Regions from separate parts of the Homo sapiens genome. Here all the other regions are linked to region 5. Evidence: fine-mapped expression QTL. A gene starts in region 5. Each other region holds a variant in brackets. All regions are shown on one strand. Distances are between the middles of the regions. Region 1 overlaps TMOD1 (tropomodulin 1). Region 2 overlaps TMOD1 (tropomodulin 1). Region 3 overlaps TMOD1 (tropomodulin 1). Region 4 overlaps TMOD1 (tropomodulin 1). Region 5 holds the start of TMOD1 (tropomodulin 1).

Region 1 (6,358 bases), 74 kb before region 5:
GCAGGCAGGAGCCAGCATCTGCATCTTAGAGATGAGTATACTGAATCCATGTGTAGATGGAAGTTGGACCATGCTCCCTCGGCTTATTCATGACAGAGCCAAGGCTTGACCTTGACCTGGGGCTGAAAGGACTGCCCCAGGTTCCTCTAGGCCCAGTTCTCACATTAGTGTCCAGTACCCTAGATACACACAGATGTGTCTGGGCATGTGCGACAAGGTACAGGATTCCATTAGATAATCATGATCTTCCAGGAGTGTTCATCTCAGAGCAAACCCATTCTTTTTACATTAAGGAGTAAAATAGAACACGTGCATACACCTTACAGTAAGCCTTAAGATGTCAAAGAAGCTTCGGCCGGGCACGGTGGCTCACGCCTGTAATCCCAGCACTTTGGGAGGCCGAGGCGGGCGGATCACGAGGTCAGGAGATCGAGACCATCCTGGCCAACATGGTAAACCCCATCTCTACTAAAAATACAAAAATTATCTGGGCATGGTGGAGCGCACCTGTAGTCCCAGTTACTTGGGAAGCTGAGGCAGGAGAATTGCTTGAACCAGGGAGGCGGAGTTTGCAGTGAGCTGAGATCATGCCACTGTACTCCAGCCTGGTGACAGAGTGAGACTCTGTCTCCAAAAAAAGAGATGTCAAAGAAGCTTCATACCTGCATCTTTCTCTGACTCCGGGGACCCTGAGACTAAAAGGACTCATTCATTTTATAGAAGAGAGAACCAGTGGCTGGGGAGCCACGACTAAAAACCAGTTCTCTGACTTATTTTTCAAGTAACTTATTTAGTGATTACTGCATGCTAAACAATGTCATAAACATTTTACAAAAGCTAATTCATTTTTTCCTATCAATCTAAGGAATTTTTCCTGTCAATCTAAGGAAAACTACTATCGTTATTTTCATTTTATTTTATTTTATGTTATTTTTTGAGATGGAGTCTTGTTCTGTCGCCCAGACTGGAGTGCATAGCACGATCTTGGCTTGCTGCAACCTCTGCCTTCTGGGTTCAAGCGATGCTCCTGCCTCAGCCTCCTGAGTAGCACCACCACGCCCAGCTAATTTTTGTATTTTTAGTAGAGATGGGGTTTTACCATGTTGGCCAGGCTGGTCTTGAACTCCTGACCTCAAGTGATCCACCCACCTCAGCCTCCCAAAGTGCTGGGTTACAGGCATGAGCCACTATGCCCATCCTCATTATTTTCATTTTATAGGCAAAAAAAATTGAAGCACAGAAGTATTAAGAAATTTTTCCCAAATCCTAGCATGGGTCAGTTGCAGGACCAGGATTTGAATACAGGCAGCGAGCTCTAGAGTCTGTGCTGGTTTCCACCTCACTTAAGTGCCTCTGAGAATGACCAGAAGGCAGAAGTAGGACTGACGAGAGGAACTACACGCAGATGGTGTTTGGCTCAGCATGGAGGAATGCCTCTGACCATTAGAAGTGTCCACACGCTGAGGAACTGCCTGGTAAGGTAGTGAGCTGCCTGTGCCTGAAAGTGTGTAAAGGGGGAGAGACCAAGGGGTTGGTCATGCCCGGACTGGCAACAGTCTCTGGGCAGCAGAGCCAGGGACAGGATGGTTGGGAAAGAACTCTCATACTCCTTCAGATTTGCTTGAGAAGTAAAAAACCACTTGTGAATAAATATAACCACATTATTAACAATTCATATGATATTAACACAGATTGAGTAAAAGGAAAGAGTCTCCCTCACCCGATTTATTCCCAGTCCCACCCCCTTCCGTAGAAGTAACCACCATGGGCCAGGCGCGATGGCTCACGCCTGTAATCCCAGCAATTTGGGAGGCCGAGGTGGGCGGATCACAAGGTCAGGAGATCGAGACCATCCTGGCTAACATGGTGAAACCCGGTCTCTACTAAAAAATACAAAAAAAAAAATTAGCTGGACGTGGTGGCGGGCACCTGTAGTCCCAGCTACTCGGGAGGCTGAGGTAGGAGAATGGCGTGAACCTGGGAGGCGGAGCTTGCAGTGAGCCGAGATCGTGCCACTGCACTCCAGCCTGGGCAACAGAGCAAGACTCCGTCTCAAAAAAAGAAAAAAAAAAAAAAGTAACCATCATGGCCAATGAGTTGTGTTTCTATGCATGAAGTATATGACAGAAATGTACAGGGATTTGTTTTGTTTTGTGGTACTTGTTTCTTGTTTAAATGAATTCATACTATACTTACTGTTCTGCAACTTGCCTTTTTCATTTTATTTTAATATTTATTTATTTATTTTTTTGGAGACTGTGTCTCACTCTGTTGCCCAGGCTAGAGTGCAGCAGCACAAAGCAGTGCAATCATAGCTCACTACAGCTTCTGACTCCTGGGCTCAAGTGATCCTCCTGCTCAGCCTCCCAAGTAGCTAGGACTACAGGCACGTGCCACCATGTCTGGCTAATTTCCTTTACTTTTTTTTACAGAGATGGGGTCTTGCTATGTTGACCAGGCTGGTCTTGAACTCCTGGTCTCTAGTGAGCTCCCTCCTTGGCCTCCCAAAGTGCTGGGATTACAGGCATGAGCTGTCATGCCTAGCCCACCTTTTTCATTTAATATTTTGCAGAGCTCTTTCAGAGTCAGTATGTAGAGAATGACCTTATTCCTTCTATTGGCTTCACGGGACGCCCTGGTGTAGATGGATATTTAGGTTACTTCTGTTTTTTCGTGTTACGAACAACGTGGCAGTGGCAGGGGAGGGAGGGGGTATTCCTCAGGCTTCCTACGGAAATCAAAACTGCTAGGTTGAAAGATAGGCGCTTTCAAATTAAAATTGAGACTGCTCTGACAAAAGGATGTAAAAGTCGGCATGCCCTTCAGCAGTGTGTGACAGCTGTGTGTCCTCACACCTTTACCATGTCAGAGCATTACCCATCAGATGAGAAAGAGATCAGATTTGCTCTTGAACAAAATTACCAACCAACACCTTAGGTGTTACAAGGTGTATCCTGGAGCCGGTGGCTCTGAGGCTCCCTTTCTGGCCAGACGCAACAGGAACATCAAGAATCTCACTTTGGACATTTGACGGAGCCAATTCTGGCCATTCCCAGATGATATGGACAACTGGGAATACTTCAAAACACAACAGAAAGGAGGCCTGGGAATTAGGTTATCCAACTCCAGAGTCCCAGACCCTAACTGACATTAAAATTCCCTCCATCTCCCAGCTGTTTACACACCCCCAGGATGGGAACTCCTCCCCCTTTGAGATACCTGCTCCATCCTGAGGTAGCTTTGCTAGTTATGTGTCCGGAATTGGTGGGTTCTTGGTCTCACTGACTGCAAGAATGAAGCCGCGGACCCTCGAGGTGAGTGTTATAGTTCTTAAAGGCGGTGTGTCCGGAGTTTGTTCCTTCTGATGTTCGGATGTGTTAGGAGTTTCTTCCTTCCGGTGGGTTTGTGGTCTCCTGGATCAGGAGTGAAGCTGCAGGCCTTCGCGGTGAGTGTTACAGCTCTTAAGGCGGAGCCTCTGGAGTTGTTTGTTCCTCCCAGTGGGTTCGTGGTCTCGATGGCTTCAGGAGTGAAGCTGCAGACCTTCGCGGTGAGTGTTACAACTCATAAAGGCAGTGTGGACCCAAAGAGTGAGCAGTGGCAAGATTTATGGCAAACAGAGAAAGAACAAAGTTTCCACAGTGCGGAAGTGGACCCGAGCGGGTTGCCACTGCGTTAT[C/T]CGGCAGCCTGCTTTTATTCTCTTATCTGGCCCCACCCATATCCTGCTGATTGGTCCATTTTACAGAGAGCCGACTGGTCCATTTTATAGAGAGCTGGTTGGTCTGTTTTGACAGGGTGCTGACTGGTGCGTTTACAATCCCTGAGCTAGACACAAAAGTTCTCCACCTCCCCACTAGATTAGCTAGATACAGAGTGTGGACACAAAAGTTCTCCATGTCCCCACCAGAGTAGCTAGATACAGGTGTCAATTGGTGCATTTGCAAACCCTGAGCTAGACACAGGGTGCTGATTGGTGTGTTTACAAACCTTGAGCTAGATACAGAGTGCTGATTGGTGGATTTGCCATCCCTTAGCCAGACATAAAGATTCTCCAAGTCCCCACCAGACTCAGGAGCCCAGCTGGCTTCACCCAGTGGATCCTGCACCGGGGCCGCAGGTGGAGCTGCCTGCCAGTCCCGCGCCCTGCGCCCGCACTCCTCAGCCCTTGGGTGGTTGATGGGACTGGGCGCCGTGGAGCAGGGGGCGGCGCTTGTCGGGGAGGTTCGGGCCGCTCAGGAGACCACGGCGTGGGGGAAGCTCAGGCATGGCGGGCTGCAGGTCCCGAGCCCTGCCCCGTGGGGAGGCAGCTAAGGCCCGGCGAGAAGTCGAGCACAGCAGCTGCTGGCCCAGGTGCTAAGCCCCTCACTGCCCGGAGCCGGCGGGGTCGGCCGGCCGCTCCGAGTGCGGGGCCCGCCGAGAGCACGCCCACCCGGAACACGCGCTGGCCCGCAAGCGCCGCGCACAGCCCTGGTTCCCGCCGGCGCCTCTCCCTCCACACCTCCCCGCAAGCTGAGGGAGCCGGCTCTGGCCTTGCCCAGCCCAGAAAGGGGCTCCCACAGTGCAGCGGCGGGCTGAAGGGCTCCACAAGCGCGGCCAGAGTGGGCGCCAAGGCTGAGGAGGCGCCGAGAGCGAGGGAGGGCTGTGAGGGCTGCCAGCATGCTGTCACCTCTCAGTTACAGAGGTCTTTCTGGTCAACTCCTGTGACACAAAATAATATAGATAATTCTTACTGTGATGACTTAATATCTGCAAAATTCTTTGATCCTCCCCCCTCCAAAAAGTGGTGTCTGATTTCTCTCCCCTTGAGTGTGGGTTGTGCTTTGTGACTCACTTTTAATAAACAGAATATGGTGGAAATGACTTTGTGTAACTTCCGAGGCTGGGTCATAAAAGGCATCTGAGGCTTTCTTTTTTCTCTGACTTGGCTCACTCACTCTGGGAGAAGTTAGCTGCCATATTGTGAGGACACTCCAACAGCCCTAGGCCGGGTGCACACGGTAAGGTGCTGAGGTCTCCTGCCCACGCTGTGAGGGAGCCATGGTGGAAGCAGTTTCTCCACCTCAGATCATGCACTCTGGGCGAAGTCAGCCAGCCACACTGCTCCTGGATTCCTGGCCCTCAGAAATGGTGAGTTAATACATGTTTATTGTTTTATGCCAGGATTCTGAGGCTGTTTAAGTTGCTATATTTGGGGATAATTTGTTACACAGCTACAAAAAACTGATACAATCGCAACGTTGAGTAAAAAAAGCCAGACACAAATCATCCAATCTGGGAAAACAAGACAGCACAATCCATCTACTTTAACTTCTCTTCAAAATATTAAGCACATCCTCATTGTCAAATATTGGAATAAAAAGTGGGGAATCTGGCCACTACCCCAGACATTATACATATTCTCATTTGTGGGACTCACCCCAGGCCTTGTCTGGCCTGGGGAGCAGGGTCCCTGGTGCCCTGGGGGTCCTGGGGAAGAGCAGCTCTGTGGGGAGTTTGGAGAGTTTGGTGAGAGCAGCACAGAAGCCGTGTGTGGAGATGGCCTGCTTGGCCTGGGCCGGGCCTGCAGGCTCCCTCGGGGCCCACAGGGTTTCTCCCATCCATCCATCAGTGCAGCCAGGATACTGCAGCTCCAACCGAGCTCTGCCACTAACCTGGCCTGTGGCCTCAGGCTAGTCCCATCCCTTCTCTCATCCTCAGTTTCCCCGCTTGTGAAAGGAGGACTGGGCTAGATGTTGTCTCAGTGCCTTCTGGCTCTGGGGTCTGCTCTGCCCTTTCCCAATTCACCATGGTCTTGGCGCAACCACAGGTGGCAACAGAACATTGCTTGGAGATAGAGAGACTATTTGAGTCAACAAACAGCTTCAAAGTCCTGGTTCCCAAACTGTGTCCTGAGCCAGCTCCGTGTCACCCTGGGCAGAACTCCCCAAGTCCCTTTCCCTGGCCGTATAAGGAGAAAGAAGGACAGAGACTTGCTGCCACAGGTTATAAGCACAGGACTGAGGAAAAAGCTCCCGTCTCCAAGGACCTCGGTGACTAACCAGGAATGAGGAATAAAGGAATAAATCAAATGCCACTCGCCACCTCCTCTGTGTCACACTGCCCTGCCTCCCCCCAGCCTGGGGCTGGGGCACCTGAAGGGGAGGCACAGGTGGCCTCCTCCTGAGCCTGAGTCAGCAGAGCCCCCTCCCTGAGACCTGCCTTCAGCCCTTCCCCTGCCGGACCCAACTCCAGTTAGGCAGGAGCGCCTCCCCACAGCCCCCTGGTCCTGGAGGCCATAGCTCCTGGCTGATCTCCTGGGCCCTGATACCCTCTCCTTGCCCCCAGTCCCCTCCCATCCAGCCAGAACCATCTTCCCAGAGCA
Region 2 (6,358 bases), 32 kb before region 5:
GGAAATATAAAGCCCTAAAAGATCCTCTAGACCAATGATTTTTTTCATTTTCCATTGGGGAAACTGAGGCATAGAAAACTGAAGTCACTGGCCCAAAGTCACATAGCTTGTTAGCCTCATAGCTGGGAAGCCTGAGCTTACATAAAAATGACACTGTATATAATTAGCATGTATATATATTAGCATGGTCAAGGATCTATATAACTATCTTCAGACTGGTGGCTCACCATGCATAAAACCATGCAAAACCCCTTAACCTGGTTCCTCACAGTGACAAAAAAACAAGGAATTTTTATCACTTTTCCCAAATACATCAGCTATATCTAAGAACAAGGGAATGCAAAACGTGACCCCTGGGTCTGGGCTCTGGCGGTCCCAGGTTCCTATTCTGTGACTGAATTACACACAGCTTCTTGGAAGAGGACAGGACAGGTGGTAAAACCTCTTTATCAGGGATTGGAAGAAGCCAAGGGCCGGGGAAGGGAGGGGCCTCACTTGAAGTCATACGCTGGACCGAGAGCCCAGGACTCTTGACTTCCATCCCACAGAAAATTTTCCATCCCACCTGACTGCCGTCCTCTGGGAACAAATCCTGGAAACCAGATGTGGCCGCACGTGAGAGCCAGGTCTCCTCCACAAGTGTTAGAAAGCAGGGGAGTGGAGACTCCCCTGCTTATCAAATGAGTCTCAGTTTACACATGGAGAAACCGAGGTCCAGGGGCATTGAGTAATTGTCCTGGGGTAGGAGTGAAACCAAAGTGGCCTCACTTTTCGAACTTCCAGCTGACTCCTCTTCCCTCCTCCCATTTCAAACAATTTAACCTAAGTGTGCCCTAGACGCCCACCTGCCTCCACATCAGGCCAGGCCAGGCCAGGCCAAACCTATCACAGGCCAGCAACTCCCCTAGTTGCCTTTTACAAGGGATTTGACTGGAAAACAAAAGTTTTTAACTGGCCTTGAGGATTTTATTTTCCAGTTATCTGCCAGGTCGGTTTCTCCTTATGAAAAACTTAGGCACTTATGGTCCCATCCCAATATACAGAGTTCTGCCTTTGCATTACTGTCCAGCAGCTTCCAGATCCCACTGGAAATGATGCAGTGGAGCGCTCTTCTCACATACTTTAGCCTGAGAGTGTGGCAGGGGCAGCGGGGTGAGCCAACTCTTGCCTCAGTCACAGCGTCTTGATGTTACAAAGGGACCAGCAGGATCCAAACCTCTAAGAGCCCCACCCCCTCCAGACACAGCCTCTGCCCTAACATACACACTCTGGGACTCTTCCTCCCTCTCTTTGCTTTCTCTCCACAAAGAGCTAGGCCTTTGGCTCAGCTGCCCTGACCTTGATGCAGGGCTGGTGAAACTCAATAGCTGCCATTTCCCCAGTCAACTTTACAGGGCATTAATGCCGACGTCCAAAGGCACTCCTGTAGCTGAAACCCAATAATTGCTTGTGGTGGTACCTATTTGTCATAGCAGCACAGTCTCTCTCTGGTATTCAAGGTGGGGACAAACCTTCCCTCCCTGGCTTTCTCCAAATCCTCCTTTCCTGCCTCATGTGCAGGGAAAATGTTCCATGTTCCTGTTGTGCTGGGGACTGGGTATCCTGAGACAATGACGGTACGATCCCAGCCCAGAGGGGCTCACAGCCACAGGGGAGATACACATCTCAGTGGTGTGGTCACCTTACTCAGCCCTGGGCTTCCTGGAGGAGGTGGTCCTGAACTGAGTCTGAGGGACCAGGGAAGAGCCAGCCAGGTGAAGAGAGGGAGTGCAGGGGCATCGCAGGGAGAGAGAAAGCACAGTGCAGCAGAGGCCCAGCAGATGAGGGCGGCATGGCCTGCTAGGGGAGGCATTAGGGTCTGAGGCTGCAGTGTTCCGAAATGTCTCCTTCTGTGGGCATCACCCTCGTTCCAGCCCTTGTGAGTCTTGCCGGGACCAGCAGAGAAGCCTCCTGGCTGGTTTCCTGCTTCAGGCCTCTCTACCTCTGCTCCTTAGACTCCACTGACATGTGTACCTGACCACATCACTCCCCAGCATACTCGGAGATGCTCACCAACTTCCCTGACCTACGAATTCTTGACCAATTCATCAGCCAGGCATGAAGAGCTTTTCATGATTTGACTCCAACCTACTCCCACCTCTCCAGCCTCCTGAGCCTCTTCCCTTCATCAAGTAGCCCATGTTCTAGCCACTCCAGGCTGCTCCATATTCCACAGCCACGCCCTGCACTCTCCCACTGCCATGCCTTTGCTCAAGGCTGTGCCTTCCACCTGGAATTCTGTCACTCCAGCTCCCCTGCATTCATCTTTCAAAGCCCTTCCCTTGGGCACCCTGTTCAGCCTTTGCAGGATTCTCCAAACTGACCTGGTGAATCTTGCTCCAAACTCCCCTAGGCATCTTGCCAGTTCTTGAATAATGCTCATCTTACTCTGTGGAGCATATCTATGCTGTATCTCTCTCCCTAAGGATACTGGGTGCCCTTCAAGGGCCAGCTGGGATATATCTTAATTTTCTCTGAATCCCCAGCACCAAGCCATGAGTGCTAAGAGAATGTGGTCTGAGTTGTCCAGTCACACAACACTGATGCTCCAGCTGGGAACAGGATGGTATGACTTGGACTCCCTTCAGGCCCATGTTGCACCTGCTGTCCCAAGCCATTGGCTTTTCCACCCAGCTGCTGTCCCCAATTGGGTTTTGGGGAGAGGGACATATTATGAAAGATGTCAGAGTTGGGGAGTGTCTAGGATGAGACCAAGGTTCACTGTCGTGGGTTTTGGGAAATGCCAAGCTAGAGAGTGAGACCTTTATAATGTTTACTTTGAGGGCCTGGATTTGGTTAAAGTCCTGCCAACTCCTCTCAATCCATCTCAGGGCTTTCAGCAGAGTAGAACATCAGGCCATCACACTAGTGAACCCACAGTGACAGACTCCAAATCGTCCCCGATTCAAGCTTCCCCTTCTTTAGCAATAAAAGAAAGCCTCCACTTTTTAGTTGAGCTCTTGGCTGCTCAGATTAAAGGCTACACTTCACAGGCTCCCTTGCAGCTAGGTTGAGTCATATAATTAAGTTCCAGGCAATGATATGAGAAATGTCCAGTGGCAATTTCTGGTAACTTTCCTTAAAAGGGACTTGAATCATGGCTTTTCTCCTTTCTTTTATCCCTCCCCCTCCCCATCCCTTTTTCTCTATTTGGATGCCTGGAATGTGGCTATTATGGCTATAGGGCTACACCTTAGGAATGGCAGAAAGATGAGCTGGACAAA[G/A]TCTAGGACTCTGAGAAGTCTGGGGAGCTGAGCTCCATCCCAGCCCTAGATTGCCTACCTGTGGACTTTTACTTGAGGGATGGATAAAACACTGCACAAATCACATTATTCTGAGTCTCTGTTACTTGTAGCGAAGCTGCACCCTACCTGATAACCTGGGTTCTCAGCCCAGGGCTGTGAGGCCACAGACGGGGCACTGGTGCTCTCTGGTTTTGGATCCCCCATCTGTAAAATGAGGGTCCAGAGCCCTTTTATCTTGAAACCTCAGAATAAAGGTTTAAACTCCATATGGAAGCAGTTTCTTGCTATTCAGTTTTACCATCACTGGGTATGATCATTCACTTTCATTCAACTGAACAGACACTGCATTATGGAGGTGGTCTGTCAGGGCAGTCACATCTGGTTGTGCAGGTTGTGCACTGCACTAAGCCAAGGACATTATTCACTCTCTAGTCTATGTGAACAGTGTCTCCTGGAGAAAGTGTCCAACTTGCACAACTATACCTGGCTGCACTGTATCTGTGGCCATACAGTATGGTTCCCAGTCTCAAAAAACTTAGATTCTAGTGGACAAATCATATACTCAGGCTCACATTTATTAAGGACCACCACGTGCCAGGCACTGGGCTAGGTGCTTTTCATCTAATCACACATGTATATGTTTGTGTATGTGTCTATTTTTTATGCTAAAACAAACACCTGCCATAGGAGGTAGAACCAGAGCTGCAAACTGAGAGGCCTACAGGCCAATTAAAAGCTAACACTTGGTTGGGTTTGTTTGGTCTGTGCATTTAAATAAGCTGTCAGCATTTTAAAATAAGGAGCTTATACATTTTTTAAAAATCCAGATTTCCAACATCTCTGGAAACATTAGGTGACGTGGCAATACCAGGTCTGCACTCTCATACCGGCAACAATTAGTGGAGCTGAAAATGCTGGGCGCTTTAGACAAACTCCCATTTGCCTCAGTCCCCACCACTCCCTGTTTTCTCTGACACAGAGGCCACGGTCAGTTACTACATAGCACTGGTTTTGCTGTTGCTTTTAGTTCTGAAAATGTAAATGGTAAGTGAACATTTTCTTACATACACATACCTTTATAAAGTGAGAAAGTAATAGATAAGCCAAGATGACCACATGGCTCAAGAAAATTGACCCATCTTCCTTCCTTCATGTAGGTCACTTACATGATGTTGTGGATACTTGGTTTGCTGCCTCCCAATAGAAAGCGCTCAGTAGAGTGGCAGAGATGATGAATAGAAAGGGAGACAGAAAGGCAGGGTTTAAATTTTATCTGTAGTGATTTCTTTTTTTTTTTTAAGAATGATCAGAACCAAATAAGGCAAAATTTTAACATTTGCTAAATTCAGATGATGAGAAAATAGGTATATACTGTACTCTCCTATGTGTTTAAAATGTTTCCTATTCAACATGTCAAAATCAAATAGGAAACAGCTCAGTGTTGCCAGGGTGGAGCAGGTGCTGTGCTAGGGGTGTGAAGGTGAAAGAGTCTAAAAGGCTTCCCGAGGGAGGGGAGGAAAGGTCAAGCCTTGAAAAATGTGAGGAAGTGAGGGGTTCCAGGTCGAGGAGGTTCCCCAGCCAGAGGAGGGGTTGGGAGAGGTGGTCATGGGTCCAGAGGGCAGAGGGTAGGGTGGGGACACACAGATGCCTGGCCTGACTTGCCCTCACCCCACCAGGCCCATCCTCGGCTCTGTGCACAGCCAGCAGTGTTTCTAAGGATGTGTGCCTATTTTTAGAGGAGAGATTTATTTCTTTCCATTTCAACTGTTTACTTCTGTCCTGGGCTTGCGATTCTGCCGGTTTGTGTTACAAAGGAGAATCACGGCCCTGTGGACCAAACTTGGCTGCTTCCTGGATGGCAAGAGTGTCTTTGCCTTAAAGGATATGATTTGGGGCACAAGTAGGGAGGATTTTATGATCGTCTGATGGGAAGCCATGTGGAGTGACAGGAAGTACCAGGTGGGCGCCTTGGCTCGGCCGCTGACTTGCTGTGTGACCTTGAATGAGTCCTTACCCCTCTTTCCACTTCAGGGTTTTGTTGATGCTTGGATGTCTCATCAGTGAAATGGTAATAATGACACCTCACAGGATGGGTATGAGGATTTGATGAAATACATAAAACACCAAGTGTGTCCAGGACAGACTCCAAAATCAGGCTTTCTCTACCGGTACCGCGTATGTAGATGCCTGGGGTGGGGTACTGTTAGATGATTTCTAAGTGTCCTTGGAGCTCTGGGATTCTCCAATTCTGTTTTCCATATTTCGTCCTGCAATTCATGGCCCTTTGTTCTCAGAACTCTGTTTTTGAGATGGAGTCTTGCTCTGTCACCCAGGCTGGAGTGCAGTGGCATGATCTTGGCTCACTGCAACCTCCGCCTCCCAGGTCCGAACAATTCTCCTGCCTCAGCCTCCCAAGTAGCTGGGATTACAGTTGCGCACCACCACGCCTAGCTAATTTTTGTATTTTAAGTAGAGATAGGGTTTCTCTATGTTGGCCAGGCTGGTTTTGAACTCCTGACCTCAAGTGATCCGCCTGCCTTGGCCCCAAAAACTGCTGAGATTATAGGCATGAGCCACCACACCCAGCCTGTTCTCAGAACTCTTGACACATTATGGTCTAAGGAAAGCAGGGTCTGTCTGAATTCTATCACTTAATAGCTGTGTGATTCTGGGAACCTATTTCTTTATCTACAGAATGACATTAAACCTCATCCTATGAGGATCAATCTTGTAAGATCCTTGTAAATATTTTATGAAATGATGCCCATAAAATGCTTAGCATAGCACCTGGCATGTAAGAACACCTTAGCAGAGGCCAGGTGCAGTGGATCACATCTGTAATCCCAGCACTTTGGGAGGCCAAGGGGTGGTGGGGGGGGTGGGTGTGGATCACCTAAGGTCAGGAGTTCGAGACCAGCCTGGCCAACATGGTGAAACCCCATCTCTACTAAAAATACAAAAATTAGCCGGGCATGGTGATGTGCGCCTGTAAGTCCAGCTACTTGGGAGGCTGAGGCAGGAGAATCACTTGAACCTAGGAGGCGGAAGTCACAATGAGCCGAGATCACGCCGTT
Region 3 (6,358 bases), 23 kb before region 5:
CAATTCCTTCCCTACACAACACTCTCCTTGCGGCCTTTCTCAAAGGCCCTCACTCGGCATGGAATTAAAAAAATCCAGAGCTCAGTTCCAGTATCACCTGCTCTGTGATGCCTTGCACCAGTAAGAGTTAATCTCCTGGCACAGCTTCCTGTCTGCTCTGTGTCAAGCTCAGTGTATTATGCCTGTGTCCCCACCAGCCTGTGCTCCTGAAAGGCAGAGTCCCAGCCAGGCTGCCCTGTTGGTGCCCAGCACAGTGCTCGGCAGGTAACCGAGTCACATTTATTGAGTTAACTGGAAGTGGCTACATGCCTCTTTTGTTCTCCCTTTATAAAGTTGTTTGTTCTTGGAATTCTGTGTGACAGTGATCTAGGATAGAATTAGAACAGAATAATTTTGCAGCTTGATTTTTTTCTTGCCTACATGGCTTGTTTTTACTGAAACACAGGCTAATGGGGAGAGATGATGCGGGGGAAGAAAGAGAAATGCAAGGCTCTTTCCACCAATGCCGACTTTTGATCAACTTGAGCAGCCTCATCAGGAAACCATCTTCTCCTGGCAGGCAGGGGAAGATCGTGAATATCAGGAAGAGGAGGACACACTGTTGGAGAGATGTGTAATTCTATGGGGCCTGGGACCCAAGAGCCCTAGGCAAGGATTCTGAGTTATCTGGAATGAAGCCACTTAATCACACCTGGGTATAAGACCAGATTATAAGTCAGGTTAGCTTAACCCTGAAAATGACCAACCAACTCTGCTATTCCATGGCTGGGGACATTGAGGTCTAGGAAGGATGGCAGCTTGGTCCAAGGTCACATGGAGTGGAAGAGACAGGGTTGGGATTGGAAGCGAAACACCTAACTTCTAGTCCTGCATTTTTTCATCAAACTGTGCTCCCGGGATGTTAGCAGTGACCATCTCTGGGTGAGTGAGATTGAAGTGTTGTTTTCTTTATGGATCACTATTAAACCAGAGTTGAGCAATGGCTGGTTTAAAAAAAGGGTGTGATACATTCCATTTTTAATTAAAAATATATAACATGGAACATTTACTCAGTTCAGTAACTTTGATTATCTACCTTCTCTGTGCTGGTTATTGACCTGGGTGCCTGGGATATAGCTGTAGGATGAAGACCCTTGTCTAGGAGGCCACCTACGAACCCCTCTATGCCCATGCTCACAGTTCTAGTGTGACTTGCTAAACCACATACACAACCAAAGAGACTTTTGACTCTTGACACTGTGTACCCTGACTGCAGGGATGAATTCTGAGTATTAAACACACTTCTAAATGTGCCAACTATGAAATGCAATGATAAAACATCAAACATTAAATGAGAAGAATTATTCTGGTCCTTTATTTCTCAGCTCATTCATTCCATGACACATGTTCTCCACCATCCTGAAGCTGCTGGCTCGATATAACGGGGTAACGGCCTTTTGAAGACTCAGTTACAGTGCCAGCTAGGTGGCCACACCTTACAGGCCGGGGCAACATTCTCCAGAAGGCTGTATATGCTCTGAATCAGTGGGCAATTGCGGATGCCATTTCTCCCATAGCTAGGATTCATGGGTCAGGGAATCAAGATTGGAAATAGGAGTGGCACCACTCACCATTTCTCCTAGTGATGCACTAGCAAAACTTTTGTTCATTGTTCCCATGACCCTGTGGTCTGCTGGCCTAGAAGTCTTAGTTTCAAAGGACCAAAGTTCCACTAGGAGACACAACAATTCCATTAAAATGGAAGTTAAAACTGCCACCAGGCCACTTTGGGCTCCTCATGACTCTGAATCAATGAGCAAAGAAGGGAGTTACTGGGCTGGCTGGGGTGACAGATGCTGACTACCAAGGAGAAATTGGATAGCTATTGCACAAGGGAGGTAAGAAAGTATGTCTGGATACAGGAGAGCCCTTAGGGCGTTTTTTAGTATTACCATGCCCTGTGATTAGGGTCAATGGAAAACTACAACAAACTAATCCAGGCAGGACTACTAATGGCCTAGGCCTTTCAGAAATGAAAGCTTAGGTCACCCCATCGGGTAAAGAACCACAACCAGCTGAGGTGCTTGCTAAAGGCAAAGAATGGGGAATGAAACAGGGTAGTTATAAATACCAGCTACAACTATCTGAGTAGTTACAGAAATGAAGACTGTAATTGTCATGAGTACTTCCTCCTTATTTTATGAACACTTGTATTGTGTGTGTGTGTGTAGCAAATATCTTTGCTTTTTCCCTCTCTTATTCCCTTATCATGTAACACAAGATTGTTTGATACCGACTTTACTGTTATTGGTGTATTGGCTTTGTATAATAGGATTTAAGTATCATTAATTTTACATTATAATATTTAAGTTACAGGACAGCAAGGAGAAGAATAAACATCACTCATGGACTTTACCTCCTCTTCTGGGGAAGGTGATAGTGTGTTTTCCATTGTACCCAGGATAGTTGTATCATGTTAGGCAGAATTATGACATCGTTACTGTCTTTATTTGGAAATTAAGTATGGTTTAAAGAGATGTATATGTGTGCCAAGTTGACAAGGGGTAGACTGTGATGGTTAATTTTGGGTGTCAACTTGACTTGGCCATGGGATGCTCAGACATTTGGTCAAACATTTTTCTGGGTGTGTCTGTGAGGGTGTTTCTGGATGAGACCAATATTTGAATCAGTAGACTGAGTAACACAGATTATTCCCCCTGATATGGCGGTGGGGGGTGGGCATCCAATCAGTTGAAGACCTGAGTAGGGAAAAAAAGCTGACCCTCCTCCAAGTAAGCGGAAATTTCCTCCTGCCTGACTGCCTTGAGCTGGGACATTGGCTTTTTTCTGCCTTCGGATTCAAACTAAAACATCTTTTCCCAGACCCAACTCTTCCTGGGTCTTCGGCCTGCTGGTTATTTGTATTTGTATTGGAACTGTGCCATTGGCTCTCCTGGGTCTCCACCTTAGCAACTGCAGATCTTGCTGGTCTCTATAGCCTTGCAAGCTAAAGCCTTATAACAAATCTCTCTCTCCCCTTCTCTCTCTGTCTCGACACACACACACACATACACACACACACACACACACACACCCTATTGGTTCTCTCTTTCTCTGGAGAACCCTAATACAACACATTAAAAGAAAAATCTGCAAAGGCAAAGTTATACCAATGTCATTGCCATGGAAGGAAAAAGGAAGTGGTGGCTTTAGGAAGCATCCACCTGTCCCTCCCCAGGTCCCCTCGCTAGTGACAATGTGCTTCCCTTTAGCACCTACTCACATCAGGGTCCAGCTCATCCAGCTCATTTTCCAGGGTCCTCAGCTCTTCCTCTGTTAGGGCTCCAAGGATTTCATCTTCATCCAGGTCACGGTATTTCTCTAGTTCTCGTCTGTACGACATCGTGGAAGAACTTGTCTGTGTCTCCTGAATTTCTGTGCT[G/T]AGTAATACCTACCAGAAAGACAAGAACCTTAGAAAGACCCGTCTCAGATTTGCTCTCTCAGAGCAAATGGAGGCTCATCGTTCACACAGCGGCCTGGGTACATTTTATGAATTGCCAGGATAATCATTACTATGGTGGAATACTACACTAAGTTTGGCTAATTCTCTAATAAAACTGTGCAAGGTAAAGTCCTGAGAGCATGTAAGTTAATGAATTGTAATTGGTTAGAATTGGCATGGACATTAATTACAAGTAAATGGGCAATTGTAAATGGCTTATGAGTGCCTGAAAACAATGTTATTCTTTAAGGAGTTCAAATACTTTTCTGTGTAACTCTCCACCCTTCACCCTACACCCCAGAGGGAATCATGAATGCTGGAAACTCTGCCAAAACTGAGTTTAAAAGGGGCAGGGGAGTATCGGTGGTTAATTAAGCACCTACTGCATACAGGCCCCTCACCTACACCATCTCATTCAATCCTTACAAAAAGTAGTTCATAGAAATAGCTAACTTTTACTACTGCATATCAAGCTGTGTGTTCAGTACTTCACAAGGACTTTCTCATTTAACCTGTGAGGTAGGTATTACCATTATCCCCATTTTATAGAGAAGGACTTAGAGAGATTAAGTGACTTACCCAAACGACACTACTAGGAAGCAGCAGATCCACATTTAAACTCAGGTCTGCTGGCTGCAGACCTTCTCTGCGGAGTCACCCAATGGCGTGGCCAGGGGACTGCCTAGTCCAGAGCCCCCATTTCCCCCCAGAGGGAGCCGGTTCAGAGGGAAGAATTGGTTTGCCAGCAGGACCCTGGGGACCAGGGTTCACCTCTGCTGCTTCCCAGACTGCTCTCTCTTGCTGGAGAAGCCTACTGTTCATTTCCCATTTCACAGATGACACCCAACGCATTTGGACCCTGTGTGTTTGGACCCTGTCTCTGCTACTTCCCATAACCATGACATTTTCAGACCTGTTAACTCATCTGAGCCTCTCCACACACACTTTTTTTTCCCCTTTTTTATACCTTGAAGATCTTCTTGGATACTAATAGGTCTTTTAATTAAAACATTTTTATTAGTGAAAAAACTAAGGGATGGCCTAGGGCTTGACTCAGGACCCCTGACATCAGTCCGAGGGTGCTCTCTACTCCACCACACTGCCTCCGCTGAGCTAGGAGGGACAGCAGGACCTCGAGCGCTATTGTCCTCCAGCTTGGCTAAATGTAGTACTGTGCATAGAATCAGTGTGATGAGTTATATGTGTCTCCTAAAAACTCATATATAAGGCTGGGTGCAGTGGCTCATGCTTGTAATCTTAGCACTTTGGGAGGCTGAGGTGAGAGGATTGCTTGAGCCCAGGAGTTTGAGACCAGCCTGGGCAACACAGTGAGATCCTGCCTCTACAAAAAATACAAAAATTAGCTGGGTGTGGTCGTGCAGCACCTATAGTCCCAGCTACTCAGAAGGCTGAGGTGGGAGGATCGCTTTAGCCCAGGAGGTCGAGGCTGCAGTGAGCCATGTTCCCGCCACTGCATTCCAGCCTGGGTGACGGAGTGAGATCCAGTCTCAAAAAAGTAAATAAATAAATAAAATACAAATAAAAGTTCATATGTTGAAGTTCTAACCCCCAGTATCTCAGTAACCTAGCAACACATTGCAAGTTAGAATGTGACCTTACCTGGAAATACGGTCATTGCAGATATAAGTAGTTAAGTTTAGTCAAGGTCTTACTGGATAGAGTGGGCCCCTAATCCAATATATTTTACCTGGGATCCTTATAAACGGGAAATTTGGACACAGATATAGCACACTAAGAGAATATCATGTGACAATGAAGGCAGAGATTGGGGTGATGCTACTACAAGCCAAGGAATGCCAAAGATTGAGAGCAAGCCACCAGAAGGCAGCCCCAGAAGGAACCCACACTGCCGACACCTTGATCTCAGACTTCTAGCCTCCAACACTGTGTGACAGTACGTTTCTGTTATTTAAGCCACGCTGTGTGTGGAACTGTGTTCCAGCAGCCCAGGCAAACTTATGTAACAGATATGACCTTCTTCACAGCAACGTACGTATTTAGACCTCCATGCAAGCCAACCAACCAACCCACCCGTGGCTCATCTGTGAAATGATGATGGAATTTTCTAAAGTAGAGAAAAATGAAAACTAGGAAAGGACAGTCAACCAATCGATCCAAAACCTGGGAATAGTTGTTAATGAAAAATAATTAAAGGCATCTAAAACAAATGAAAACCAAAGTTCACTAAGCTAACAGAAAAAGTCTCTGTCTCAGAAAGCAGAGAGCACATTTTATCAGTGTAAGCCTGTGCATGTGTCGGCCTATTTGCAGGAGAAATCCAAGTATATGACAGCTGGCTTGATAAGAAGGACTTGCTTCCCAAATACAGAAACCTCAGTGCCATCCTTTTCTCTCAGAATGGCTCAGCTTGGCCTAACGTCCTCTTTGACCAGGCCCCAAGAATGCAATGCTCAGACCATAAATGGCCCCCCATCACTTGATCCATTTCTATTACTTCCAAAGAAAGCACAGCTGACAGTGCTCTGGTATCGACGAAAAAACCTTCCTGAAGGCCCTCAGAAAACAGCCTAATTTGGCTTTTCCTAAGTGAAGCCAGGATGGGGAGAGGATCCATGATCTCTGTGCTGGGGCCAAGAGGGACTCCAGTGAAGGGCTTGGAGTCTTCCAGAACCAACTCACAGAGATGTCCAGAACTGCCTTAAAACTAGCATCTCTTAGAGAGGCTGCAAACACAAGCTTTTGGTGCTCAAACGGGTTTTGGGTTATATGAAGTTCCCTAGGACTCTGGACTGCAGGACTTCTTCAAAAATGTTGGTATGTGGGTATACAATGGAGTCTCCAAGAGGAATAGGTTGCAAGCAGAATTCCCCCAGTCTTTTTTATCATAAAAGCACG
Region 4 (6,358 bases), 92 kb before region 5:
TCCTCCTTCAATTCTGTCTGGTCTTTACTTTCTTTAAAAAACTCTTCACTGCTTATTGCAAGAGCCAGAGACTCCTTTTATTGTGAATGCCAGAAGGGCTCTCCAGTCGTCCGGACCAACCTCCATCTGCTGCTTGAACTCCTCTGCCACTTCTTGCCAAATTTGAACATTTCCATCATGTTTTTGGAAAGCACTTTCTATTCATTTAAATATTCGGCAGCATGTACTGAGTGCTGTGTGCCAAGCACAAGAATCAGAAGTAAAGACACAGTATAACAGGAACCAAGATATACAATGTTTGAGAACTACTGTTTGAGAAATATGAAGTATTAGAGATGCCCTGGCAGCTCTCTGAGGTATGAGAGGCATAAAGAATGAAGTGGTCAGACCTTCCCAGGTGGCAACTAACAGGTCAGCTGAATTTTAAACAACAAAAAGGTAGAGGATGGGAAGGTGGGGGGCATTGGGAGTAAAGACCCTCTAAGGGTAAGCTTTTCCTTGGTCACTTGGGGGCACTCAGGCTACCTGGAATGGTAGTAACATGGCAAAGGGATGGCTTGTTGGAGATGTCAAGAGACGACCTCCTGATGGGACCATCTCCCAATGTGGAGCACCCAGGCACTGGAGCCACATTGCCAATTCAAATCCCGGTCCTGCCCACGGATTGTGGGTAATGTTAATTACCTACTTCCCTAGACTTCTGTTTCCTTCTTGTAAAGTGTGGATAACAATAGCACCTGTCTCACCTGGTTGTGGGGAGGACTACATGAGCTAGTGAGATGGGAAGTATTCAGAACAGTCTCTAACACACAGTAAGTGCCATGTAAGAGTCAGCTATTATTAAGAGACTTGGGAGTCATTTCAAGGGGCCTGACTGAGAGCAATGGGAGGCAAGTGAGGGTTCTAAGTGGAGGGGTGACAAGGCAAGCTTCGGAAGGAGACTTGGGATGAGTGCCAGGGGTGCCTGCCCTGGAGGAGCTGGGGGCCTGAGGATGTTGGAGGAGATAACTGTGACGAGGGCTCAACATACACGGCAGGACACTGGGATTGGCAAGGAGGTGACTGGCTGGCTGGGGTGGAGGCAGCATCTAGGAACAGGCCCAGATTTCTGGCTTGGGTGGCTGTGAGGAAAGGAGTAGCCTTTTCTTTTTTTCTTCTTCTTTTTTTTTTGATGGAGTTTTCTTGTTGCCCACACTGAAGTGCAATGGTGTGGTCTTGGCTCACTGCAATTTCTGCCTCCCGGGTTCAAGCGATCCTCCTGCCTCAGCCTCCCAAGGAGCTGGGATTACAGGTGCCTGCCACCATGCCCGGCTAATTTTTTGTATTTTTAGTAGAGACAGGGTTTCACCATGTTGGCCAGGCTGGTCTCAAACTCCTGACCTCAGGTGATCCGCCTGCCTCGGCCTCCCAAAGTGCTGGGATTACAGGTGTGAGCCACCGTACCTGGCTGCCTTTTCTGAGATAGGTTTGGGGGACTATGATGAAACTGATTTGGGATCCAGCAGTCCCACTTCTGGATATTTACCCAAAATATTAAAATCAGTTGAAAAGATGTTTCACTCCATGTTCATTGCAGCATCATTCACAATACCCAAAATAAGGAATCAACCTAAGTGTCTATCAACAAGAATGGATAAAGAAACTGGGGGATATATGCACAATGGAGTACGATTCAGCCTTTTCTTTAAAAAAAAAAAAAAAAAAAAGGAAATTTGTTCATTTGCAACCACATGAGTGGAATTGGAGAACATTATACTAAGTGAAATAAGCCAGCCACAAAAAGACAAATTATATGTGGAATCTAAAACAATTGACCTCATAGAAGCAGGGAGTAAAACTGTCATTACAGAAGCTGTGGGTGGGGAATGGGGAGATAATGGCCACAGGATACAAAAATCTCAGTTGGACAAGAGGAATAAGGTGTTTTATAAAGCTCTGTTACACAGCATGGTGAATATAGCTAATAATAGTGTATTATACATTTCAAAATTGCTAAAAAATAAACGTTCTCACCACAAAAAGTATTTGAGGTGATGATATGCTAATTCACTTAATTTAATTTTTCCACATTGTATTCATAAATCATAACAGCACTTTGTATCACATAAATATATACAATTACAAATTGTCAATTGACAATAAAATACATTTTTTTTAGAAATTGCTTTGCAGTGTGCTATGTCTGGGCTGCTTGCTGCAAAGGTCTTCCCTGAGAATACTGTAAAATGGTGACTCCCAGGAAGGGATGTTTTCTGCTTTTAAACATGTTACTCTCCCTCCACACGATACCCCAACCCACACAACTGTCTTAACTCACAGGCTGCAATTCAGATTTTGCTAAGTGGAGAGAGCTGCAGTGGCAGATTTAGAGGACCTGAAGTGCCATGCTTGGCCTGGCTCTTTGCTATAAATAGTGTGGAGATGACAGTCATCTGAGGTATTGCTGTGGGAAAACGCAGATGGGATCCACAGCTCGGCTCCTCCCTGGCACCCTGCACTCACAGAACGCTCTGTTTAGAGCTTGGTGCCCAGGGTGGGGAGGACCGAAGACGCACTGGTCAGGATGCATCCTGGGCATACCGCCTGTCTGCAGAGCCAGTCGCTGTCCTCATAGCCTTGGGGACTCAATGTCCCCCAAGGAGGAGCCCAAGTACTGCAGAGGCCCCAGCCATGGGCAAAGAGCCAGCAGAGGCAGGTGAGAATGAGCAGGAGGCCTGAGAGGCCTGCTCCCTTCCCAATCTGCGCTCCCTGCTGCCAGGCCTGCTAACAGCCTCAGTCCCGAGGAGGAGCTGGCAGGAGGCTTTTACGATACAAATATTCAGTTGGAAAACATGAAGTCTGTCTGCTTCACTGCGGCATTAATGTAGGATGCAAATAATCTGTTGTAAAGTCAGGAGGAAGCTGAGGCACTGCCATAACAAACATTTCTCTTACAAAAATTAGCAGATGGGCGCAAATTTCATTTTAAAGCTAGAGATCCTACATCACCAAGTAGCACTCTGTTCCCTGTAATCACTGAGATGATTCATCTCTAATTCCTTCTGTAGGAAACCCCAAGGGAGCAGCTGCCCACAGTTCCCTGGGGTAACCCAGAGGCCCAATTTTATCACCTGGCATCACCGTCCAGGAAACTGCCACGGTCTCTGCTTCCCACCTGCTTCCATCGCCAGGCCCCTGAGCTTGACATTAAAGGCCTTGGGCTGCAGCCACCCAAACACCTACCCAGCCCCATTCCTTGTGAACATCCCATATACTTTCAACTGTCCTGCCTTTGCTCATGCTGTTCCCTCTGCTTGGAATGCCCTTCCCTTCCTACTTTGTGAACTCATTTTTCCTCCTAGGTCTAACTCCTTTTAACAGTTCCTCCAATCCTTTTAGATCCTTCTGTCTCTCCTTTGTACCCCCAGCACTACTTCCTAATACTCCTAGAACCCCCAGAGGGATGCCTCTAGACCTCCTCCATCAACCTATCTCTTCCTTTCAAGGCTGGCTAAAGCCCCATCCCCAACCAGCATGCTTTGCCTAACTGGCCTCTGTCTCAATAAATCATTTCCTCACTTTGTTTAGATAGAATTTGTAGGCATTCTTGAATTTTTAGGCATGCCTTTGAGTCTTTTTTTTCCCCTAAAAGGTTATAAAGCTTCTTCAGTCAGAGGTAGCCTTTCTGCTACCTCTGATATCACCTAGCACAGTCCTAGGCACACAAAAGTTGCCCAGAAAATGCTTGCTGTCACTAACAGCTGGTGTGACCTGACTGAGCTGCTGCCTAGACCCCCTACCCCCACCCCAGGCTCCAGTTTCTTTCTAAGGGAACTGGAGGGATAAGCTCTAAGTCCTTCTGGTTCTACCATCCTACATTCTTACAATGGCCTCTGAAAGTTCTTGGTGATGGGAGTCAGGCCTGAATTTTG[G/T]ACTCTCAGATTCACAGGACTGGGAGAGTTTTCAAAGGCCATTTTGTCCAACTCCTAGATGATGCTGGTATCCCCCTGCAGCACCTGTGACCTCTGCTCATCTAGAGCCTCTATCCCCAGAAACAAGACCTCCATACCATCATGCCATTGGAGGACAAAAACTGGGTTAGCCCAGAGATAGGAGCCAAGGGGCACAGAAGAAACTTAACTGAGGGGGAAACAAATATGAGATTATTGCATATAGAATAGAAACGCAAGGCTTCTCCGTGCTGGTACTGCAGCCAGATCACAGCTGCTGGCCTTCTCCAACCATTCAGTTTAGCTATGACATCTGTGAGATGATGTAATAATTATGATTCTTATTTGTGTTTGTTCTTATTTTATTTCAAGTAAGGATACTTCTGATAAACCAAGACTCTGCACACATTTTAAAAAATGGGCTTTTCTAAACCCGAGGCTCTAGAAAATAGTGGCATTTGCAGTGAGCAATGAATGAATAGCTCCTGGGCTGTGACATCCTTACAAGCAGGAACCTATAGAATTTTGGTATATGTTTGTGGAATTTAATAACTCGATCTAAAGTGTGTGTGTGTGTGTAATCCTGTGGTTATCTGTGCATGTGGGGTCTGTGCACACCTGCCTTGAGCATTCACTCCTACACACTCATCTCTGTTCTTCGAGGGCTTCCAGGTAGTGACCTGGCCTCAGATAAATCACCAGGAAGTGACATACTTTGAGTGGAGCATTCATATTAGGCTCTTTGCATTTTATCGAGGGTTGGAAACCATTGTGTAGAGCAGGTTTGAATCTGATGAGAAACTCACTGAAGATGCTGTCCTTTAAAACACAAGTTCATTTCACAATGTAGTCCCAGAAAGAGGCTTTTCTTTTTTTTTTTTCAAACTCATTATGCTTCCTTCCCTTCTGTGATAAGAATAATGTAACTTGGCTTGGCTTCCTGCTGTCTTGGTTCTAGGAAACTCAGGGCTCAATATAATCATCATTCATGTTAATGATATAGACCTACTGCTTTTCTTGTTTTTTTTCCCCCTCTTGTTTTCCTATAGCCTTGTCAGTCATGCTCCCTTTGTTGAATGCTATATCAAATTCTTTTTTGGCAGCCAGCAGGAATATACATAAGCAATAACTACACAGAGCTTGTGAACAACCGGCATCTGCAAGTAAGATCATGATTGCTCAAACTTCATTCAGTTGACTTATATACCTATTTGTTCATATAGGTATATAAGTGTTCATTATCAAAAAATATTGTGATATTTTCATTTTCTTAATTTTTTTATTTTTTAAAATTTCCTGATAATGTCTCCTTCATAATAATTTTTCCTTTTAGAAAAAAACAAACTATGCCTTTAATTGAGATTACATTAATATACCCTACTTTTACTTTACTATGAAGTTGACATTTTCAACTTTTACCTTAAAATCAATGTGAAGTCTCCTAGGCTCAGATTTTGGTAGTCCTATTGGAAGGTAGTTTTGGGATTTGGGGCTAAATCTAGACTGTGTGACCTGGAGAGGACGCTATGAGTTCAGAAAAGGGTATTCAGAAGAGGAAAATACTCCCGGCGAGACTTGTGCCCTCCCAAATTTCAGTTCCTTCTGCAAACACACTTAAGTGTGCTCTGGGCCCAGCCTGTGCTGAGCTGTGCTTTGAGGAGGAGAGGACTCAGCCTTAGCTCCTGAAGTCAAGGAGCTCGTAGTCCAGGGTGGAGATGAGGTACAAACACAGAAAACAAGGAAGACGCGATCAATGTGAAAATCAAGGCTCAAGAAGACTCGGAGAGGCATCTACAGAATTTTCCCTGACATCCCCAGCACAGGTGGAGGGAATAACAGGACTGCGGGCAGGGCAGGAAGCATATTTCTACTCACCAAGGTCATTGTTGTTCATCATTGCGTTGGATGCCCGAAGCCGGGGTCCTTGCTGGGTAAAGTGGTAGCCGAATTTGAGAAGTGTTGCGTTTTTTTCCAACATGCTCACAATCTCCATTTCCACTTTGTTGCCCAGGGGCTGGCTCTTTAGTCAAGAAAAAATAAAAAATAAAAAATAAAATCACCACTCATTCCATGTGTACAGTGCCTAAACCACCTCTACCTGCAGAAACTCTTGAGTAGTGGGAGGGGATTTTAGCCTCCTCTCCAAGAGTAGGGAAATGGAAGTTTAGAGAAGTTGAAAGGTCACACGGCCAGGAGCAAATGAGCTGGGATTCAAATTCAGGTCTGCTGGATGCCAAGAACAGATCTTTTCACTGCTTTACAACAGCCTCTCTCTGAGCAGGTGCCCAAGTAAGAGCTCCACGACAGAAGAGTATTTGAAGGAGGACATTCAATCATCTAGTCCTAAGGAGACTTTTAAAACCCTGCTGTCCGGGCTATACCCCAAACTACCTGAATCAGAATCTCTGGGGAGTGGGACTCTGATGGCT
Region 5 (6,358 bases):
GTGGTTTTAAACTGATAATGGCTCCTAGCAGCCCAATAATTGATTTATCTGGTGTTCTGGCTTTAAGGGAAAAGTAAACTGGCCTCTTTAGAAATGTTGGCAGCCTGGCTGGTCCATTAGTAAGACTGAAAAGTCAAAACATTGACTGGAAAAGGCCATTACGACCGGGCTCAGCAGGAGTCATCGATAGATGATGTCATTTCAGAAATAAATAAGCCAAGGTTATGAGGCCCCAGAGCAGGGTCAAAACACTCTTCACAGCCCATCACCATCCTCCATCGCAGATACTGGTCTGCCAGAGACATAGGGGTCTGAGCCAGGATCTGCTTCGTTTTACCTTTTTTTGCTCATTCCAGGGGATGAAGGCCACCTGCAGAGTCTGTGACATTCTGCAAGTCACTAAGGAAGGTCCCCAATCCTCATTATGGGCACACCTTTTAGATTCCCCTTTAACTCTCTCCCCTCTCCTGGGTTCTTCTCACTACTTGCCATACTCTTTATCCTAGAATGCCTGCCTCCCTTCTGTTCCTTGTCCTCAGTTCCTGCTACCTTCCCTCTCCCTTCCTTTCTCATCCAAGCTTTTAGAAAGAGTTGCTGGCTCTGTTGAGAGCCTTCTTCAGCCTACAGCCTGAAGAAGTGGAGAACTTCTTCAGCTCCTGTTAGCTCCTGCCTTTCCCCCTCACCACAACGAATACTATCATTGCAATATCAGGCTCTGGGCTGAGGGCTTGCCCTGAATCATCTCACTTAATTCTCACAAGCAGCCCCTATGAAATGGGGCTATTGTTGTCTCCATTGTATGAGGAGAAAACGAGGCTCAGACAGGCTGGGTCACTGGCAGATCTCATTTTTTGAGCCTGCTGCAATACCCTGGTCTAAGTCACTCATGATCCCTGCCAATCCTGATGGTCTTTTCCCAGTCCTCATCCCCCTACTCCTGTCTCTCCACAGCAAGTGACACTGCCCACCTCTGTCCTCCCTTGGCACCTGGGAAAGCCACTGTCTCTCACTCCTTCCCCAGCTCCTCCTTACAGGATGGGTCATGCTAGAAAGGCTTCCAAGGAAGACTCTAAGCCCTCTCCACTCCAGGTCCACTAGAGACCACCTTGTCTGCCCCCTCATTGCTCAAGGTTCCTCTGAGTGGGTGGCAGAGTTGGGGCTGGAGCCAGATATCCTAACCTCCAGGCCAGTCCACCTCCCATTGCTCAGAGCTGCCACACCTACTTTGTGTTTTCTGTTTTTGCTGAGCTGCAAGAAAACGCCCTACCCTGAAGGAGGGAGAAGGTGTGAGACCCTGATAAGGTGGGGCGGAGGCTATTTTTAGAGGACACTGGCTTTCATCTTAGGCTGGGAGAAACTCAAGGGTCAATGACTCTCTAAAACACGGGTTTGTAAGACTAGCTCATTAAAGATAATACACCAAAGTGACAGTATTCTTGTTTTCACTCTGCCTGTTGGTTGTGTGGCTCTAACTGATGGAAACTTTATTATCTGACTCCATTTCCCGTTAATTCTTTTTTCTGTAAGTCTTTGAGATGGCTTTAGAAAAAAACACATAACAGAAAGTAAAGTAGAAGCAAAAAGGAAACTTCAGGATGAGGGCGCTATTGTCCAGACAAGGTAAAGTCCAGAACAGCAGCAGATTCAAGAAGAGGGGGCATTGATCGGGTGCTCCCAGAGCTCCCGGACCTGCCTGAGCAGTGGGAAGGGTGCGGAAAGAGATGGGAAAGGCTGGGAGACTGCAGAACTTCTGGCGTGACCGGCCCTGTGTGACCTTGAGCAGGGGGCTCTGCGGCCCTGCACAGAGGACAAAATGGCAGTCACCTCTGGAAGAAAGATGGGGTGGGGGCCCTAGGGGTTCTCACGCTGAGGGCCCAGCACCTGGGTTCAGGGTCTGGTTCTGCGATTCAGACACGGAGGAGCTTGGGCCAGGTCGTCTCCGAGAGTCTGAGGGCATAGGGCGAGGGCTGGAGACAGGGTCTGTAATAGTAGCGGTGGGTGAAGGGTGTAGGAGGGGGCGGCGCTGCGCAGGTTGGAGGACGCATCATAGGCCCGATATAGACCGGGAAACTGTGGCCAGGGAGCGGCTGTACTGGAACCACTGCCCCTGCCCAGCTCATCGCATCTGAAGCTGCGTGGCTCACAGGCTGCTTTGCCGGCTACGGAGCAGAGAGATGCCCATAGGCACCCCAAAAGTGCACTTCCTAGGGTTGTACGGCTTAGGATATCCGACGGCCTTAGTGAGTCCCAGGATACGATCGAGTCTGGGGCAGTCAGTCTCCGATTTCTGCAGCGTCTCCGCATGTGCGCGGCTGGGACCCCAGCGTCCCAGGCCCGGAGAGGGTGAACAGGTGTGGGGAGCGCAGGCGGCCAAGAGCGCGCCCTGCAGCTCTCAGGGCTTGGGCTCCCAGCTCCATCGCGGCTACCAAACCTCGCCCCTACAAATGGGAGACTGAGATCCAGAAACAAGAGGGGGATTGCCAAGGCCATGCCGAGAGCCGGCGACAACCTGGGGCTCCCGCCTCCAAGCTCTTTCCAGCTCCACTTGGCCGCGTAGCGCGTGTCGTGGTGCTTTAAACCTTGTCTCTCCCAGTTTGGGAAACTTCACCTGCCCCAAACACTCTCAGCGCGAACCTGGGATCCACGTCCAGTCGAGCCTTTACTCCCCCACTCCCACCCCCAGACTCTTGCAGGCGGAGAAGAGGCCGCGCCCCCGAGCCCAGCTCCGGCTGGCACCTGTACCCAGCTGAGCACCCCGCGGGCTCAGAGCCCCGCCGCGCTGGAGTCCTGCGGGTGGCGGGGGCGCCCCTCCGCCAGGACCCCAGCCCGGGGCGCCGTCTCCTCCAGAACCCCGGGTCCTTCTCGCGTTCACAGACGCGGTGCGGAGGTCCAGAGCGGAGGGCGCCCTGGCCAGGGCTGCGCGCGCGGGGAGGCGGGGACGGGAGCGCTGGGCTCGGAACCCCGAGACCCGGGCTCCCTAGCCCCAGAGGCAACCCGAGGCGGCAGCTATTTATAGAGGGAGCCACGCTCAGTCCCTCTTGGCGGCGGCGGCGACAGCTGAATATTTTGCCCAGATATGGCTGAGGCCCCGGAGCGGGGGCAGGGAGCCCCGCGAGCGCGAGGGGGACCCCAGGCGGGGTGGGGGCTTACCCGGACGCAGAGCTGTGGGGCCGGCGCGGACGCGGGCTGCGGAACAGGCGCGGGCGGCGGGCAGATGGACGCGGGCGGAGGCCGCGGTGCTCCGGCGGGCAGCGGGCGGGCGAGCGCAGCGCGGGGCTGGACGAGCTCCCGGGCGGCCGCGGGCGGGCGGGAGCTGTGGGCTCGGGGGTGGGAGCCAGGGGCGGGCCCGGCTCGGCTGTCACCGCGCCCCGCCCCGCCCGCCGCCGGCTCCCTCCTTCCCCCCCCCTCCACTCGGGGGCGCCCGGGCGCAGCGCACTTCCCCGTCGGGACGCGGCCCTGGGCCGGGAGCGCAGGGGAGTCGGGCTGCAGCCGAGCGAGCGCGGGCCCCTGCCTGGGTCTCCTCCGCTTCCCCGCTGGTACCAGGAAGAGTTTGAGCGACGGTAGAGTTATGTGGGAAAAGGTGGGCAGATTTGCATTCCTGTGGGGTTTAGAATTTAAGATTTTGAGAATCTGAAGTCCCCAGAAGTGATGGACCAAAGCCAGCTAAGCAGCTGCTGCACCTTCACCTCTGATTGAAGCGCCGCTCCGTCCGTTTCCCAGCAGCGCGGCCAGGTGGGCTCTGAGCCGCAAGCTTTAACCGCGATCGTTTTGTCTACACGTAGTTCCAACACGCAATCGAATACATTCTCTCTACACTGAGAGCGAGTGGAGTGTCTAAAATACTGATTTTAAATGACCACAACAAAAAGACCCAAGTTCTTAAAAGGCTTTTTTTTTTTTTTTTTTTTTTCAGAACAAACCACTTTAGGTGGTTTATTCCAAATACAATTTTAAGTGTTTTAATAAACAAATGTCTCATGCAAAGGAATTTATATAGAAATAGGAAAACGTCTTATTTTGGATTATTATGGGAAAGCTTTTGGTAGGGTAGACCTTAATAAAATCAGCTCTTAATCCTGATGTATAGATTATTAATGAGAAACACTCATTAACCAAATTTTGTTTCTCAAGAAAATGAATTTCTCTAAAGTCCTCACAATGAGAACGCTCTTTTCAAGGGGTATATGCCATACATTTAAAAATAAGCAGTGATCTAATATTTCAGATTATTTTAAAACATTTTTGTTGTGAATCGAACATATAAGAACATACAACATAAGTTATGTTGTATGTGTAAACAAAATAAATGTGCAGCTTCATGACTTTTTACAACGTGAACACCTGTGCAACCAGTCACTCAGAGAACATTGCCTACAGCCCAGAAGCCAACCTGTCCCTCCTGGGTCCCAACTCCCTTCTAAAGATGATCACTTTCTTGACCCTTACGGTGATCATGTCCTTGTTTTTTTTCTTCCCTCTGTAGTATGTCTTCATTTGTTCAAATCTGTTGTTAATCTGTGGTTTTATGCAGCTGTAGTTTTTCACTGTATGAATATGCCACAGTTTAAAAAAAAATCCATTTGACTATTAATGGGCATTTAGGTTGTTTCCAGGTTTTAGCTATTACAAATAGTGCTGCTGCGAACATTCCTTGCCAGAATCCTCCTGTCCACGCGCACAGCCTGCTGTTGGAAGTGCTGGGTGATAGAGAAAGCCTAACCTCAACTTCGGCAGAGATAAGCCTGAACTCTTCCAAAGTTATAGTACCATTGTACAGTGCAGTTTCCCATCTTCAACAACACTTGAAGTTACAAAAATTGAAACACTTTAGAAATTCTGATATGTGAGTAATGGTATCTCATTGAGGTTCAAACTTGCATTTCCCTATATCCTAATGTGTTGAGTATCACTTCATATTTATTGGCCAGTTGGATTTGTTTTGTGAATTGTTCAGATTTATTGTCCATTTTTCTTCTGGATAGTCCTGTGTATTGAATAGATTCAATGGTGTGTGTATCCTCAGTTATATTCCACTCTTTTGCCTTTTCACCTTATTAACGTATTTTGATAAACAGGTGTTCTTAAATACAGTCTGGCAATCTTTTCCCTTATTGGCAGCACTCTGTGTCCTGTTTAAGAACTCTTTCCTGTTCCTGGGTTATAAAGTTATCTTCCTATGTTATCTTCCCACCTTAGCCTTTCATGTTTAGGTTTTTTGTTTGTTTGTTTTTGTTTTTGTTTTTGAGATAGAGTCTTGCGCTTTGTTGGCCAGGCTGGAGTAAAGTGGTGTGATCACGGCTCATTGCAGCCTCAACCTCCTGGGCTCAAGCCAACCCCTTAACCCCCACATCAGCCCCTCAAAGTGCTGGGATTACAGGCATGAGCCACCATGCCCAGCTATTTAAAAAAATGTTTTTTGTAGAGATAGGGGACTTGCTATATTGCCCAGGCTGGTCTGAAACTCCTATGCTCAAGCAATCCTCCCGCCTCAGCCTCCCAAAGTGCTGGTATTACAGGCGCGAGCCACTGTGCCCAGCCTCATGTTTAGTTTTTTGTTTTTTTTTTTTGTTTGTTTGTTTTTTTTTTTTGAGACAGGGTCTCTGTCATCCAGGCTGGAGTGCAGTGGCGCGATCTCGGCTCACTACAACCTCTGCCTCCCAGGCTCAGGTGATCCTCCCACCTCAGCCTCCTGAATAGCTAGAACTACAGTTGTGCACCACCACATCCAGCTAATTTTTTGGTAAAGACAGGGTTTTGCCACGTTGCCCAGGCTGGTCTCAAACTCCTGGCCTTAAGTGATCCGCCCACCTCAAAGTGCTGGGATTACAGGCATGAGCCACCATGCCCGGCCAATGTTTAGGTTTTCAATCCATCTGGAATTGACTTTTGAATATGGTATGAGGAAGGGTTCATTCACATTTCATTTGTTTGTGTCACACTGACTTAGCACTAATTTTGTGGTTACATCAAGAAACAATCTATTGCTTTATTTTAAAAAGTAATGGACTCCTCCCCCTCCCCCTCCCCCTCTCCCTCTCCCCACAGTCTCCCTCTCCCTCTCCCTCTCTCTCCACGGTCTCCCTCTGATGCCCAGCGGAGGCTGGACTGTAGTGCCGCCATCTCGGCTCACTGCAACCTCCCTGCCTGATTCTCCTGCTTCAGCCTGCCGAGTGCCTGGGATTGCAGGCGCACGCCGCCACGCCTGACTGGTTTTCGTATTTTTTTGGTGGAGATGGGGTTTCGCCATGTTGGCCGGGCTGGTCTCCAGCTCCTAACCACGAGTGATCTGCTAGCCTCGGCCTCCCGAGGTGCCGGGATTGCAGACGGAGTCTCGCTCACTCAGTGCTCAATGTTGCCC

What was found.
Region 1: its variant is fine-mapped to the expression of TMOD1 in blood mononuclear cells (TOPMed, PIP above 0.99). The same link has a PIP of 0.9 or more in NK cells, T cells, Th1/17 cells, follicular helper T cells, monocytes and whole blood.
Region 2: its variant is fine-mapped to the expression of TMOD1 in cerebellar hemisphere (GTEx, PIP 0.92).
Region 3: its variant is fine-mapped to the expression of TMOD1 in whole blood (TOPMed, PIP above 0.99).
Region 4: its variant is fine-mapped to the expression of TMOD1 in whole blood (TOPMed, PIP 0.96).

Annotation. Positions count from the first base shown.
Region 1 is chr9:97,572,348-97,578,705 of GRCh38, reverse strand. All of the region lies in intron 8 of TMOD1 (tropomodulin 1), which reads right to left. Among named protein-coding and RNA genes, the nearest start is that of TSTD2, 58 kb to the left of the region's middle. RefSeq lists a silencer at 5,656-5,895. The variant C/T (reference allele first, on the strand shown) is at 3,677.
Region 2 is chr9:97,530,843-97,537,200 of GRCh38, reverse strand. All of the region lies in intron 2 of TMOD1 (tropomodulin 1), which reads right to left. Among named protein-coding and RNA genes, the nearest start is that of TMOD1-AS1, 18 kb to the right of the region's middle. RefSeq lists a silencer at 6,197-6,355. The variant G/A (reference allele first, on the strand shown) is at 3,264.
Region 3 is chr9:97,521,213-97,527,570 of GRCh38, reverse strand. It overlaps TMOD1 (tropomodulin 1), which reads right to left. Exons shown (of 10, transcript NM_003275.4): 2 at 3,263-3,430. The coding sequence starts at 3,382. Among named protein-coding and RNA genes, the nearest start is that of TMOD1-AS1, 7.9 kb to the right of the region's middle. The variant G/T (reference allele first, on the strand shown) is at 3,422.
Region 4 is chr9:97,590,882-97,597,239 of GRCh38, reverse strand. TMOD1 (tropomodulin 1) reads right to left here. Exons shown (of 10, transcript NM_003275.4): 9 at 5,805-5,949. Among named protein-coding and RNA genes, the nearest start is that of TSTD2, 39 kb to the left of the region's middle. The variant G/T (reference allele first, on the strand shown) is at 3,912.
Region 5 is chr9:97,498,596-97,504,953 of GRCh38, reverse strand. It overlaps TMOD1 (tropomodulin 1), which reads right to left and starts at 3,288. Exons shown (of 10, transcript NM_003275.4): 1 at 3,151-3,288. RefSeq lists a cis regulatory region at 1,285-1,302, an enhancer at 1,221-1,365 and a silencer at 2,752-3,471.